Linked DNA regions of Homo sapiens: region 2 is linked to region 1. The links come from fine-mapping of genetic effects on gene expression. Tissue or cell type: whole blood. Region 1 holds a variant in brackets; the other region holds the start of a gene. All regions are shown on one strand. Distances are from middle to middle.

Region 1 (8,103 bases):
GCTTTTGTTTTCAGGACGCCCTTTATATGGCCACTGGAAGGCAAGAAAACCCACTGGAAGTTTTAGGATAGGCACCAAATCTATTTATAAACAAAGCAAAGCAATTTTATTAATCTGTAAAATATAAACAGATACCTGACTGGGAATATGAGATAAACTAGAAGGTTCTATTCTTTCTTTCTTCCACTTCATTTCAAAACTAGTAGAAAGGGAAAAGAAATGCTAAGGTATATGATACCCTATTGTTACCACATTTTCTTGTGCCACTGAAAAGATCTGAACTCTATTACATTTCCCAAAACCAACAACTTTTGTGTTTTCTTGGTTTATAAGTTTTTGAAAAATATAAAATCTAGGCCAGGCATGGTGGCTCACGCCTGTAATCTCATCACTTTGGGAGGCCGAGGAGGGCGGATCACGAGGTCTGGAGTTTGAAACCAGCTTGGCCAAGATGGTGAAACCCTGTCTCTACTAAAAACACAAAATTAGTTGGGCATGGTAGCAAGTGCCTGTACTCCCAGCTACTCAGGAGGCTGAGGCAGGAGAATCGCCTGAACTCAGGAGGCGGAGGTTGCAGTGACCTGAGGTTGTGCCACTGCCCTCTAGCCTGGGCAACAGAGCAAGACACCGTCTCAAAAATAAATAAATAAATAATATAAAATCTAATAATAAACTAACAATGCTTGAATTCATGCATTAAAACAGTACTATCTTTCAAAGTAGCTACATACCTAGTCTAAATAATATGCATTGTTGAATGTATTCTTTGAGCTCCACTTTTTTGGAAATAGGATATTTGCTACAAAACTCATCTGTTTATCTTATACTGTAAGTACACTTGTATATATTTGAGGAAACAGCCCTAAAAATCTCAGGGGGAAATTATTTCCCAACTTTATTTTTAATTAAAAAAATACAAAAGATCAAAAAGGAAACAAAACAGATTTTCCATTGAACTGGTTCAACTTTTTTGTAGATCTTCCTATAAATATTTCAAATATGATTTTTTTTTAAATTTGTAGACAGGATCTAGCTCTGTTGCCCAGGCTGGAGTGCAGTTGCACAATCACAGATCACTGCAGCCTGCCTCAGCCTCCCAAGCATCTGAGACTACAGGCATGAGACAGGGTTTCAGTATTACCCAGGCTGATCTCAAACTCCTGGGCTCAAGTGATCCTCCCATCATGGCCTCCCAAAGTGCTGGGATTACAGGCATGAGTCACTGAGCCTGGCCAAATATGTTCATTTTAATGGTTAAATAAAACATACACATTTACATTCCAAACAAAGTTACTTTAGGCTTCTATATAAAATACTGCAGGCCAGGTATGGTGGCTCACGCCTGCAATCCCAGTATTTTGGGAGGCCAAAGTGGGAGAATCACTTGAGCCCAGGAGTTCGAAACCAGCTTAGGCAACATAGTGAGACCACATCTCCAAAAAAAAAAATTTTTTTTAATGAATAAAATACTGCATATATATTCACTAAAAAAGAATTTATGGCCGGGCGCGGTGGCGGCTCACGCTTGTAATCCCACCACTTTGGGAGGCTGAGGCGGGTGGATCACCTGAGGTCAGGAGTTTGAGACCAGCCTGGGCAACATGGTGAAACCCCGTCTCTACTAAAAATACAAAGATTTGCCGGGCGTGGTGGCACACACCTGTAATCCCAGCTACTCAGGAGGCTGAAGCAGAAGAATTGCTTGAGCCTGGGAGACAGAGGTTGCACTGCGCTGAGATCATGCCACTGTACTCCAGCCTGGCCAACACAGTAAGACTCTATCTCAAAAAAAAAAAAAAAAAAAAAAAGAAAGAAAGAAAGAAAAGAAAAGAATTTATGCCAAGCACAGTGGCTCACACCTGTAATCCCAGCACTTTCAGAGGCAGAGCTGGGCAGATCACTTGAGCTCAGGATTTCAAGACTAACCTGGGCAACGTGACAAAACCCCATCTCTACAAAAAATACAAAAATTAGCTGGGCATGGTAGTGCACGTTTGTGGTCCCAGCTACTCAGGAGGCTGAGGTAGGAGGATCGCTTGAGCCTGGGAGGTGGAAGTTGCAGTGAGCTGAGATTGTGCCACTGCACTCCAGCCTGTGTGACAGAGTAAGACCCTGTCTCTAAAAAGAATTTCTGTATATATATTTTTGGGAAGTAACTTCTAACTAATTCAGTTGAGAGGTAGAAAAAAATATAAGCCTTTTATTTTTTGCATTAAACAGTAGAAACATAGAACTCATATTTTATCATTTAGCCTCTAAAATAGCCAAATGTATAACTCAGAAGGAATCATGAAAAGGCTAGATGAAAAGCACCAGTCAGTTAAAATTAAGCTGTACATAAACTTACCAATGAATCTTCGACAGGTGATTCAAGTGGTCCTACAATTTGTTCCTTTATAAAGCAAATATCTTCTTCAGGGATGAGACCATATTGTTCCATGACAGGCTTAATTCCATTAGAATTAATAAGGTGCTCAAACATCATAACTGAGCCTTGTTCATGCTAGGAAAAGTAAGCACAATATGATGTGTTAAAGATTCTAGCCCATTGGGAGCCCTGACTAACAAAATTATCCTCAATTCCAAGTAATTCTGAGATAAAGGTCTATTGCATATTAATTCTCTAGTTTCTAACCACAATCTTAGGAACATTTTTAAAAACCTGTCAGATTTTTCATTTTACTAGTAGTCTACAAACCTTTTACAAAACTTATTTCATAAACATATTTAATGCATTTAATGATATAATCATTTACAGTTCCTAAATGAATATTATAAGATCATGTAGACAGAATTACATTTTAATAAATATCATCATAAAATTGAATTTTATTTTTTCATCAGCCTTTGAACACGTGCAGTTATAAGCTCTGTTAGGCACTACCATCTAGTGGTGAAAAGGGGTAACTGCAAACTTGCCAGTAAAAACAAAGATCTCCCTTGAAATCTCCAATTGGCCTGTTTGCTCATCTCTCTCTGCTCACTCATTCACAATCAATGTAAAGGATCAAATGAACTCCTGAAGACATCTGCCCTTTCCTAGATCCTACCAAAAACTAACTCAAGATGAAAAACAAAACCTGAATTATCCTATAACTATATTTTTTTAAAAAAAGAGACAGGGAATTGCTCTGTTGCCCTGGCTAGAGTCCAGTGATGTGATCATGGGGTCACTGTAGTCTTGAACTCCTGGGCTCAAGTGATCCTCCCACTTCAGCCTCCCGAGTAGCTGAAACCACAGGTGCACACCACCCTACCCAGCTAATTTTTAGATTTTTTTGTAGAGGCAGGGTCTTGATTTGTTGACCAGGTTGGTCTTGAACTCCTAGGCTCAAATAATCCTCCTGTCTCAGCCTCCCAAAGTGGCAGGATTACAAGCAACTTGCCCTATAACTATTCTTTCCCCGCCCCCGCAGAAACAATTCTTGCTCCAGAAACTATTCTTAAAAACAGAATCAGGGCTGTCAGGCCTGGGTGCGGTGGCTCACACCTGTAATCCCAGCGTTTTGGGAGGCCGAGGTGGGCGGATCACTTGAGGTCAACAGTACAAGTTTGGCCAACATGGCAAAACCTCCTGTCTACTAAAAAATACAAAAATTAGCCAGGCATGGTAGGGTGCACCTATAATCCCAGCTACTTGGGGGACTGAGGCAGGACAATCACTTGAACCCAGGAGGTGGAGGTTGCAGTGAGCCGAGATCGCCCTGCACTCCAGCCTGGGTGGGCAACAAAGTGACACTCTGTTTCAAAAGAAAAAAAAAAAAACCCACAAAAACAGAATCAGGCTGGGTGCAGTGGCTCACATTTGTAATCCTAGCATTTTTTTGAGAGGCAAAGGTGGGAGGATTGCTTGAGCCCAGGAGTTCGAGAGCAGCCTGGGCAACAAAGCAAGACCCTGTCTCTACAAAAAGATAAAAAGATTGGCTGGGTATAGTGACATGCGCCTGTGGTCCCAGCTACTTGGGAGACCAAGGTGGGAGGATTGCTTGAGCCCAGGTGGTTGAGGCTGCAGTTAGCTATGTTCATGCCTGTACTCCAGCCTGGGCAACAGAGCAAGACCTTGTCTCCAAAAAACAACAACAACAACAAACAAATTGGCCGGGCACAGTAGCTCACGCCTGTAATCCCAGCACTTTAGGAGGCGGAGGCAGGCAGATCACGAGGTCAGGAGATCAAGATCATACTGGCCAACATGGTGACACCCCATCTCTACTAAAAATATAAAAATTAGCTGGGTGTGGTGGCATGCACCTGTAGTCCCAGCTACTCAGGAGGCTGAAGCAGGAGAAACGCTTGAACTCGGGAGGCGGAGGTTGCAGTGAGCCGAGATCACGCCACTGCACTACAGGCTGGGCGACACAGCGAGA[C/A]TCTGTCTCAAAAAAAAAAAAAAAAAAAACGAATTGAATCAAGATATACGTAATTACAAAGAGGAAAAATAGTAACTTTATAATGGAGAGATTTGACAGACAATGCCTTAATCAAGTAAGCAGAATTAATATCATTGGTATTGGCTCAACTAGGATTTATGTGCCTCCTGAGATGATACACTATGAAGGATGCATCACTGATTTTTTTGGAGACAGAGTCTAGCTCTGTCACCTCCTGGGCTCCCGGGCTCAAGCAATTCTCCTTCCTCAGCCTCCCAAGTAGGCACGTGCCACCACACCCAGCTAATTTTTTGTGGTTGTTTTTTTTTTTTTTCCCTCTTGTTGCCCAGGCTGGAGTGAAATGGCGTGATCTTGGCTCACTGCAACCTCCGCCTCCCAGGTTCAGGTGATTCTCCTGCCTCAGCCTCCCGAGTAGCTGGGATTACAGGTGCCCACCACCATGCCCAGATAATTTTTATATTTTTAGTAGAGACAGGGTTTCGCCATATTGGCCAGGCTGGTCTCCAACTTCTGACCTCAGGTAATCCACCCACCTTGGCCTCCCAAAGTGCTGGGATTACAGATGTGAGCCACTGCGTCCGATCTGGACACATCACTTTTGTGGCATTCTACCAAAAATGCATAGCTTGAATCCATGAGGAAACATCACACTGAAACTCAAATTGAGGAACATTCCACAAAATAGCTCAGTTGCTCTTTAAAAAAATGACAAAGTCACTAACGATAAAGACTGAAGAATTGCTCCAGATCAAAAGAAACTAGAAAAATGGCAACTAAATGCAATGTGTAATTCTGGACCAGGGAAAAAAAGTTTTTTTCCCCTTTTTCTATATGGACAATTGGTAAAATTTGAAAGTCTGAATTAGATAAGAGTACTGCATCAACATTAATTTACTGATTTTGATAATTATACTATGGTTATATAAGAAAATGTTGTTTTTAGGAAATACCCACTGAAGTATTTAGAAATAAAGTATTTCAACAATTTACATTCTTTGAGAGACAGGGCTCTTGCTCTATCACCCAGGCTGGAGCTCAGTGGCATATTCATAGCTCAGTGTATCCCTGAACTCCTGGATTCAAGTAATCCTCCCGTTCTCAGTAGCTAGGACCACAGGTGTGCACCACAATGACCAGCTGATGTTTTCATAATTTTGTAGAGACAGTTTCACTATGTTGCCCAGGCTGGTGTTGAACTCCTGGGCTCAAAGCTATCCTCCTGCCTTAGCCTCCCAAACTGTTGGGATTACAGGTGTAAGCCACTGTGTCCAGTCTAAAAACTAACTTTCTTTTTTTGAGACAAGTTCTCACTCTGTTACCTACGTTGGAGTGCAGTAGCACGATCACAGCTCATTGCAGCCTCGACCTCCCAGGCTCAAGCAATCCTGCCACCCCACCATGCCTGGCTAATTTTTAAATTTTTTTGTAGAGACGGGGTTTCACCATGTTGTCCAGGCTGGTCTTGAACTCCTGGGCTCAAGCGATCTGCCCACCTTGGCCTCCCAAAATGTTGATATTACAACCATGAGCCACTGTGCCTGGTCAAAACTTACTTTCTAATGATTCAGAAAAAAAATATCTATATATAAAGAGAGAGTATTTTATTTATTTTTTGACACAGTGTCTCACTCTGTCACCCAGGCTGGAGTGCAGTGGCGTGATTTCAGCTCACTGCAAGCTCCGCCTCCTGGGTTCACGCCATTCTCCTGCCTCAGCCTCCTGAGTAGCTGGGACTACAGGTGCCTGCCACCACACCCAGCCAATTTTTTTGTATTTTTAGTAGAGACGGGATTTCACCGTTAGCCAGGATGGTCTCAATCTTCTGACCTTGTGATCCGCCCACCTTGGCCTCCCAAAGTGCTCAGATTACAGGCGCGAGCCACCACGCCTGGCCAAGAGAGAGTATTTTAAAAAATAAAAATGAGGTGGATCACTTGACCCTGGGAGGCAGAGGTTGCAGTGAGCTTAGATGACATCACTGAGCTCCTGCCCGGGTGACAGGGCAAGACCCTCTCTCAAAAACAATAAAATAAAAATAAATAAATAAATAAATAAAGTAAGGGATTTTCAAAATAGTAGTTTTAAATATATCAATGCCAACTGTGAATATACTAGCAAACAGAAAAAATTAAGTTTCATAAAGCTAGCACAGACCATAATAACAACTAAAATTATAAGGAACTTAGGAGTAAGTATAACAAAGATGTATGACTTTCATGGCAAGCCTAGGCAACATAGTAAGACTCCATCTCTACAAATAAATACCCAGGTGTGACGGTGCAGGCCTGTGGCCCCAGCTACTTGGGAGGCTGAGATGGAAGGATCGCTTGAGTCTGGAGGTCAAGACCAGCCTGGGCAACATAGTAAGACTCTGTTCTCCACAGAAAGGAAAAAATAAAAACATAAATCTTATTATAAAGTATGTCAACCTAAAAGGAAGGAGCTGAGAAATATTTAATATAGAGAGTTTATTTGGGCCAAGGTTGAGGACACATTTACAAATTGCCTTGGGGAATGCTTGGGGAGAACAAAAGAGGCTCAAGTTTTTAAACAAAAAAGGACTGGCCAGGTGTGGTGGCTTAGGCCTGTAATCTCAGCACTTTAGGAGGCCAAGCGGGGCAGATAGCTTGAGCTCGGGAGTTGAGACCAGTCTGGGTAACAAAGTGAGGCCCACTCCCTCTACAAAAAATATAAAAAATTAGCTGGGCATGGTAGTGTGTGCCTGTAGTCCCAGCTACTCTGGAGGATGAAGTGGGAGAATTGCTTGAGCCTTGGAAGTCGAGGTTGCAGTAAGCCATGTTTGCACCACTGCACTCCACCCTGGGTGACAAAGCAAGATCCTGTTGAGGGGAGGGGAGGGGAAAGGAGGGAAGGGGGAAGGGGAAAGAAAAGGAAGGGAAAGAAGGGAAGGAAGGGAAAGAAAGGAAGGAAAGGAAGGAAGGAAGGGAAAAAGAGAAAGAATGAGAAAGAAAGAAAGTGAGAAAGAGAAAAAGAGAGACAGAGACAGAAGGGAGAGAAAAGAAAAAAAAAGAAAAGAGCATAAATCAGGAGGAGGAGGTGATCACAAAGAGGAGGTGATAACAAAAGTTGTTAGTCAGGAATGTTCACTGGCTTACAGAAATAACATTAGTTAGTGATTGGCTACATATTATGAAGTACAGGATATATGGCATTTTATGGTTACCTGGCATCCCACATAACAGCTGGCTTCAAGAGATAATAATTATTTAGCTCAAGGGGGCGTGACATGATTGCTGTTCTATTTCAATGCCTCTCTGGGCCTGATAATGTAAAGGGGCTCATATTTCTCAGATAAAAATTTCTTTTCTTCTTTTTTTTTCTTCCCCAAGTAACAAGTGTGGAAACAGAACAGAATGCAGAATGATTCATCATATATGGGAAGTTAATAAATGTTGGGGTTGGTATTACAGTCAGTGGGGATAGGATGAACTATTAAAAAATTAGATTTCTCGGCCGGGCACGGTGGCTCACGTCTGTAATCCCAGCGCTTTGGGAGGCCGATGTGGGTGGATCATGAGATCAGGAGTTCGAGACCAGCCTAACCAACATGGTGAAAGCCATCTCTACTAAAAATACAAAAGTCAGCCAGGTGTGGTAGCACATGCCTGTAATCCCAGCTATTCAGGAGGCTGAGGCAGGAGACTCGCTTGAACCCAGGAGGTGGAGGTTGCAGTGAGCCAAGATCGCACCACTG
Region 2 (8,103 bases), 30 kb after region 1:
TGTGTGTGTCCTGGGAAAGCACTCAATACTCTGATTTGGAAGAGGTGTGTGTGATTTGGAAGAGGTGTGTGTGTGTGTGTGTGTGTGTGTGTGTGTGTGTCCTGGGAAAGCACTCAATACTCTGATTTGGAAGAGGTGTGTGTGTGTGTGAGTGTGTGTGTGTGTGTGTGTGTCCTGGGAAAGCACTCAATACTCTGATTTGGAAGAGGGGTGTGTGTGTGTGTGTGTGTGTGTGTGTGTGTGTGTGTGTTGTTGGGTTTTTTCCTTTCTCTTTCTATACAATTAATTCTAATCTTTCCTGACCTCAAATTCCAGAACTCTGGACTATTTTCTTTTATTTTCTTTGAGACAGGGTTTTGCTTGTTGCCCAGGTTGGAGTGCAGTGGTGCGATCACATCTCACTGCAGCCTTGACCTCCTGGGCTCAAGCGATCCTCCTGCCTCAGCCTCCTGAGTAGCTGGGACCACAGGCATGTGCCACTGCACCTAGCTAATTTTTATTTTTATTTTTTGTAAAGTTGAGGTCTCCTGATGTTGCCCAGGCTGGTCTTGAATTCTTGGGCTCAAGTGATCTTCCCACACTGGCCTCCCAAAGTGCTGGGATTATAGGTATGAGCCACTGGGCCAGGCCTCCAGTGGTTTTTGATGAGAATACTTGTTAAGGTATAGATCACATGAGTTCTAGAGTCCAAAGACCTAACCTTAAAAAATCTAGCTCTTTTTTGTAGTGGTGTGATCTCTGAAAAGTTACTTTACATCTTTGGACCTCGCATACATCATCGGTAAAATGTGTTGAGTGTAGTAACTTATTTCAGACTTCTTGTGAGGCTGTATTCCATAATGAGAAAAGGGACACTGTACCTTGTGCTTGGCTTATCAAATTAAAAAAAAAATGGACTTAGATAAAGAGAGACTTTTTTTTTCTTTTCCGAGATGGAGTCTCACTCGGTCGCCCAGGCTGGAGTGCAGTGGCGGGATCTTGGCTCACTGCAACCTCCGCCTCCCAGGTTCAAGTGATTCTCCTGCCTCAGCTTCCCAAGTAGCTGGGACTACAGGCACATACCACCATGCCCGGCTAATTTTTGTATTTTTAGTAGAGACGGTGTTTCACCATGTTGGCCAGGCTGGGCTTGAATTCCTGACCTCAGGTGATCTACCTGCTTCGGCCTTCCAAAGTGCTGGGATTACAGGCGTGAGCCACCGTGCCCGGCCAAGAGAAACTTTATTAGAAAGAAAGACTATTGCTGGTCGGGCGTGGTGGCTCACACCTGTAATCCCAGCACTTTGGGAGGCCAAGGCGTGTGAATCATCAGGTCAAGAGATTAAGACCATCCTGGCCAACATGGTGAAACCCCATCTCTACTAAAAATACAAAAATTAGCCAGGTGTGGTGGTGGGCACCTGTAGTCACAGCTACTCAGGAGGCTGAGGCAGGAGAATTGCTTGAACCCGGGAGGCAGAGGTTACAGTGAGCCGAGATCACACCACTGCATTTCAGCCTGGCGACAGAGCGAGACTCTGTCTCAAAAAAAAAAAAAAAAGAAAAGAAAAAAAGAAAAGAAAAGAAGAAAGACTATTTCTACAGGGAGAAAGCTCCAATATCAGATATCTGCAAGAGGCTCAGGAATCAAACACATAGGCCGGCCGGGCGCGGTGGCTCACGCCTGTAATCCCAGCACTTTGGGAGGCAGAGGCGGATGCATCACCTGAGGACAGGAGTTGGAGACCAGCCTGGCCAACATGGTGAAACCCTGTCTTTACTAAAAACACAAAATTAGCCAGGCGTGGTGGCGTGCACCTGTAATCCCAGCAACTAGGGAGGCTGAGGCAGGAGAACCACTTGAACCCGAGAGGCAGAGGTTGCAGTGAGCTGAGATTGTGCCGGTGCACTTCAGCCTGCGTGACAGAGCGAGACTCCATCTCAGAAAAAAAATAAAATAATAAAATAAATTTTAAAAAATAATCAAACAGAGGCCCAAGAACCAAACAGAGGTTGGGCATGGTGGCTCACACTTGTAATCCCAGCACTTTAGGAGGCCGAGGTGGGTGGATGGTCACTCGAAGCCAAGAGTTTGAGACCAGCCTGGCCAACATGGCAAAACCCTGTCTCTAATTAAAAAAAAAAAAAAAATGAGGCCGGGCGCGGTGGCTCACGCCTGTAATCCCAGCACTTTGGGAGGCTGAGGCAGGCGGATCACGAGTTCAGGAGATGGAGACCATCCTGGCCAACATGGTGAAACCCCATCTCTACTAAAAATACAAAAAAATTAGCTGGGCGTGGTGGCACATGCCTGTAATCCCAGCTACTCGGGAGGCTGAGGCAGGAGAATAGCTTGAACCAGGCAGTTAGAGGTTGCACTGGGCCGAGATGGCGCCACTGCACTCCAGCCTGGCGACAGAGCGAGACTCTGTCTCAAAAAAAAAAAAAAAAAAAAAAAAGAATCCAACAGAAAAAGGGTCTTCTTTTATATGATAAAGGACGGGCAAGCAGAAATAAGCAGAATCTTTGGATAGGAACCTGGACGAGCAAGGGAAAATGAGCAGTGTAGCCCAACAGGACAGCATCCTACTGTGGTCAGCCGGTTCTCAAAAGAAACTGACCAGAGGGAGGCATATTCCACTGCTTTAGTGCCTGCCTGGTCAGATCTGGGGGTAAGCAAGAGTTGAGGGGCCCATAAGGGAAGAGAGAAGTCCGAATAAAGTTTGGTCAAGACAAAGCAGAAGCTAAGACATGAGCAATTGGGAACAGTTGGTCAGTTTTTACCAAATGAAAGCACATAGTGTCTTTGATAGCAATAGGTTGTAGGTTTAAGGAACACACATCATTCTGGAGGGTAACGAGTTAATCTACAAACCACTGAAACAGAGAGCCAACCACATTTTGAGACAGAAAATATGGAACTACTTCACTCCACTTGTTGCTAGTCAAAGAAAATAAAGTAATAATCCATCCCAGCAGTGGAGGGAAACGAAAGGGCAAAAGGGGGAAGAAAAAAAAAAAAGGAGAAATGCAATTTCCCATACCCATTCAAGCTATCTTTGGGTCCTGAACCACTAATGTTCCTCCTACCCCAGTTTCCAACCTAGCCAAACAGGGCCCCACCTAACAAATGCAAAAATTTACTAAATTTGCAAATCCCAACCACCAAAGAATCACCTTCCTATTGGACACCTAGAGGATATAAGGCAGGAGTCAAATCTCACACCCACCACAAAAAGTTGAGTAGAATTCACAAGGATGGATGCTTGGATACGAATCAGTAAAATATGATTAAAACTCAACCTAAACACTTCTCCAGGGGATGTGGCCAAACTGTGGCATGCTGGGGATTCAGTGGTCAACTGAACAACCCCAAGGTTCAGATTTTGGAGGGGAACCTGCTTTTAAAGAGCAAAACATGTTCCTTACCATGTTCTGCAAGTGCAGTCAACACACGCCTATCGGGCGCTGCTGGGATGCCAAGGAAGGTGATGGGAATTCAGAGATTAACCAAGCCAGTTCCTTCCCCTTCAGGAAAAGCCTCAATTCAGGGAGGAAACCGAAACCTAAAAGCCCCAGAACATCCTCTGATGTGGCAAGTGTTCAAGGAGCTGCGGTTAGCGCGGAGGGGTCCCGCGAGCCTGGATGACAGCAAGCCGCCCACCAAGGTCTGGGGAAAAATCTCCTTCTAACTAAAAAAAAGGGACCCGAGTCTCGCTTGTCCCGCGCCGGGGTGGCAAGTTAGTGAAGAAACCCACGAGAGTGAGATCCCAATCTACGACTGCCCCTCCCAGGTCCTCAATCCCGGGAGCCTGCTCCCATCCTACGAATCGCCTATCCCAGGCGACCCCATGTCTTCTTCCTCCGCCTCGGGGAGTCAGTCCCGGGAGCCCCATGCCGCAGGCCCTCCTGGGAACCCCCGCCGCAGGGCTCCCTCCCCCGCCTCGGGTCTTCCTTTCCTCGGCGCCCCCAGCGCAGGTCCGCCCTCCCGGGTGCCTCCCGCCGCAGGGCTCGCTCCTCGGCCTCGGTCCTCTCGTGGGGCCCCCTCCCTCAGGGCGCCTGGCCCGCGCCCCAGGTCGCCGCCCTTCGCCCCTCAGCCCCTCCGGAGCCGCTACCTCGGATGTTCTTCAGCAGCACCGGCTCTTCAAAGCCACCGCGCCTGAGGAAGGAGCACACCTGCTCCGGACCCCATGTCTTGTAGTCGGGATGGAGTTCCAGGCCCGGGGACCAGTCTGCCTCTGCGGAAGGGGTGTTTGAGGGGGTTCTCGGGCTGTCATCGCAACGGGGACGCTTGGAGGGCTGCTCGGAATCGGCTCGCTGCATGGCTACACCTGGCGTCCGGCACAGCAGTCAAGAACCTCGGCGCCGGACCCGCGCGCAGGCGCACTGACAGCAGGGCCCTGGCGGGGAGTCCAAGGAGTATTGGCAGCCTATTGGCCTCCTGCGCAGGCTCACTGACAGTTGAGCCCTTCGGGCAGGGCAGCCTAGCGGCTCTTGCCTTGGGCTCCCTGCGCAGGCGCAATGGCAGTCCAGTCGTCCTCAAATCAATCCCGCCAGGGCGCTGGACGTGAACGCGAAAGGGCGTGGCTAGAAGCAGAACTGAGGGCAGTGCTGGTGGAAAGGGGGAGGAAAGAGCGCGCCCGGCACCGCACCCCCAATTAGGGGCTCGTCTAGTGAATTGGGGGTATTCTCCTTCGAATGAGTACACTACCCGCCGCACCTTGGCCGGGTTTCAGATGCCCCAAACTTAAAAGAAGCCTAAAAGGCCGTCAGGCTGCCAGCACCTTCCCAGTGAAGAGGAAAACAGTCAAGGTGCTGAACTGGAAGAACCCGGAATGATTTCAAATGTGACTTGAGGGTGTCTTCATTCCACAGTATTGCTGGTCAACTAGAGGGCCCTGGGATACCTGTTGTCTGGTGTCCACACAGGAGGGGACTTCAGACTTCTTTCCAACTAGAGACAGAGCCCTCCATCCCAACTGCATTCCCAGAGGAAGGAAAGTGGCCAGTCTGATTACTTAAAATTTAACTTCTGAGGACTTTTACTGCCTGGTTGTAACAGCATGTGAAAATGGCAGGCATTTTCCCATCACTTAACCCCTCTGCGGCAGGGCTCAAACTTCCCTATAAATACTGGTCCATGCAATTGCCTGGTAAAAGGACATATCACTATTACTGTTAATAAAGCCAACACACCTTCCCAGCAACCAAGGCATAGACCTGTTTAGGGGGTCAAGGACGAATGAGGCGGAATAGCTTATCATCAAGCAGTATGAACTAGTGGTCTACTGGTGAGCCAAAATATTATTTGCAAACAGAGCTTTACTGTGTGCCAGGCACGGTTCTAAGGGCTTTACAAATATAAAATAATTTTATATTTATACATAATACTAAATGAATTAAGTACATTCATTAAATTATTTAAATATTAAATAATTTTTATAACTTCTAAGGGTTTTACAAATATTGTAAAGTTCTAAGGGCTCTACACATATTACTTCACTTAATTATCACAATTACCTTAGGATGTAGGAAAAAGTAATTTGCCGCAGGTCTTCTTTTTTTTTTTTGAGACGGAGTCTTGCTCTGTTTCCCAAGCTGGAGTGCAGTGGCGTGATCTCAGCTCACTGCAACCTCTGCCTCCCAGGTTCAAGTGATTCTCATGCCTCAGACTCCCAAGTAGCTGGGACTACAGGCGCCTGCCACCACACCTGGCTAATTTTTGTATTTTTAGTAGAGACAGGATTTCACCATGTTGGCCAGGCTGGTCTTGAACTCCTGACCTCAGGTGATTCCCACACCTCAGCCTCCCAAAGTGCTGGGATTACACAGCCGTACCCAGCTGCCCAAGGTCTTACAGCTAGGAAATGATGAAGCCTGTATTCAAACCCAAGAGATGTAACTTGGTTCCAAAGTCCATGGTCTTGATAACTTGCCAACCACTGCTTGTTAAAGGGGGTTTGGGGCTGGGTGCAGTGGCTCATGCCTGTAATCCCAGCACTTTGGGAGGCCAGAGCACTCACTTGAGGCCAGGAGTTCAAGGCCAACCTGGCCAACATGGTGAAACCCCATCTCTACTAAAATACAAAAATTAGCCAGGCCTGGTGGTGCATGCCTGTAATCCCAGCTACTCAGGAGGCGGGGGCACGAGAATCACTCAAATGTGGGAGGTGTAGGTTGCAGTGAGCCAAGATCTTCCCGTTGCACTCCAGCCTGGGCAACAGAGCAAGACTCTGTTTCAAAAATAATAATAATAAAAAATAAATAAATAAGTAAAGGGGGTTTTGATATAAAACTATTTTCTATTATTTAACCCACAATTTTCAATGGCTCCCTTTTCCTGCAGACCCATGGAGGAAAGTATAAAGGTGTTCCTGCCAGGCGCAGTGGCTCACGTCTGTAATCCCAGCACTTTGGGAGGCCGAGGCGGGTGGATCACCTGAGGTCAGGAGTTCGAGACCAGCCTGGCCAACATGGCAAAACCCTGTCTCTACTAAAATTACAAAAATTAGCTGGGTGGCCAGGCGCAGTAGCTGTCACCTGTAATCCCAGCACTTTGGGAGGCCGAGGCGGGTGGATCACAAGGTCAGGAGTTCAAGACTAGTCTGGCCAACATGATGAAACCCGTCTCTACTAAAAATACAAAACAATTAGCTGGGCATCGTAGCAGGCACCTGTAATCCCAGCTACTTGAGAGGCTGAGGCAGAGAATTGCTTGAACCTGGGAGGCGGAGGTTGCAGTGAGCTTGGATCGCGCCACTGCACTCCAGCCTGGGCAACAGAGCGAGACTCCGTCTCAAAAAAAAAAAAAAAAAAATTAGCCGGGCGTGGTGGCAGCCGCCTGTAATCCCAGCTACTCAGGAGGCTGAGGCAGGAGAATCGCTTGAACCTGGGAGGTGGAGGTTGAAGTGAGCCATAGCCTGGGAGACAAAAGTGAAACTCTATCTCAAAAAAAAAAAAAAAAAAAGAGTTGTTTTCCATCTGCACACAAGGCCAGGCCCCCCAAAAAAATGCCCTCAAACACTAGAGAACTTTGTGAAAAGACCTGACAGTTGCCAAGACTTGCGAAACCAAAACGGGATAAGAAAACAAATAGCATATGTATGAAAGACTTAATCTCAAGTCAGAAATGGCTGATTTAAAAACTTGTGTTTATAAGACCTGTGGGGAAACCTGCCCTGACATCAAGGTTTCCTGGACAATAGAAGGTGTTATAGCAGGGTTTTTAGTTTAATCAACTGTGTTTGTTCAAAGCAGCTGCTTTTAAGAATTTTTAGTTTTTTAATTTCATTTTTTTATTTTAATTTTAATTTTAATTTTTTTTGAGACAGAGTCTTGCTCTGTGGCCCAGGGTGGAGTGCAGTGGTGCAATCTGGGCTCACTGCAAACCTCTGCCTCCCGGGTTCAAGCGATTCTCCTGCCTCAGCCTCCTGAGTAGCTGGGATTATAGGCACCCGCCACGACGCCCAACTAATTTTTTTGTATTTTTAGTAGAGACGGGGTTTCACCATGTTGGCCAGGCTGGCTTTGAACTCCTGACCTCAAGTGATCAGTGAACTCCTGACCTCAAGTGCCTTGGCCTCCCAAAGTGCTCAGATTACAGGCATGAGCCACCGCACCCATCCAGAACTTTTATTTTCTGTTTTTGTTTGTTAAAAAGTATAATTTATTGCCATACTTATTATATTTTCCCTAATTCCCTACTTTCAAGGGGCCTTTGATCTTGCGCTAGGTCATTAGTTACTTGTTCAGGGTCAACATGGCTGGTAAGGGACAGAGAGAGGATTCAAAGGCAGTGCTCCCTCGCTCCAAAGTATAGGCTCTTTCCAGTTTGCCACTTCATTTAACTCCTCTTACAGTCCTAACGATCCTTTTCCATCATAATTCCACAGCCTGGGAACCAACACCCACTGGACACAGGCCCTGGACTCTGGCCATAGTGAGAGAAATGACTGCTCAAGCTGCCCTCTTCTAAAGTCAATCTCAGTATGGTTAGGACTAGAAAAAACAATAAGATCAATTAATTTAAGGCCCACTGCCCAATGACCTTGAATAAGCCCAGCAAGCTTTCCCTGACCTTATCTATTTACCTTCCACCCAGCCAGGCAAGCTGGGCAATTTTAT

Evidence for each region. PIP is the estimated chance that this variant, and not a neighbour inherited with it, causes the effect.
Region 2: SAMHD1 starts here. The variant in region 1 is fine-mapped to the expression of SAMHD1 in whole blood (TOPMed, PIP above 0.99).

Annotation. Positions count from the first base shown.
Region 1 is chr20:36,917,017-36,925,119 of GRCh38, forward strand. It overlaps SAMHD1 (SAM and HD domain containing deoxynucleoside triphosphate triphosphohydrolase 1), which reads right to left. Exons shown (of 16, transcript NM_015474.4): 7 at 2,348-2,503; 8 at 1-33. Among named protein-coding and RNA genes, the nearest start is that of SAMHD1, 31 kb to the right of the region's middle. The variant C/A (reference allele first, on the strand shown) is at 4,368.
Region 2 is chr20:36,947,342-36,955,444 of GRCh38, forward strand. SAMHD1 (SAM and HD domain containing deoxynucleoside triphosphate triphosphohydrolase 1) reads right to left here and starts at 4,367. Exons shown (of 16, transcript NM_015474.4): 1 at 4,095-4,367. The coding sequence starts at 4,302. RefSeq lists an enhancer at 1-269 and a silencer at 3,862-4,081.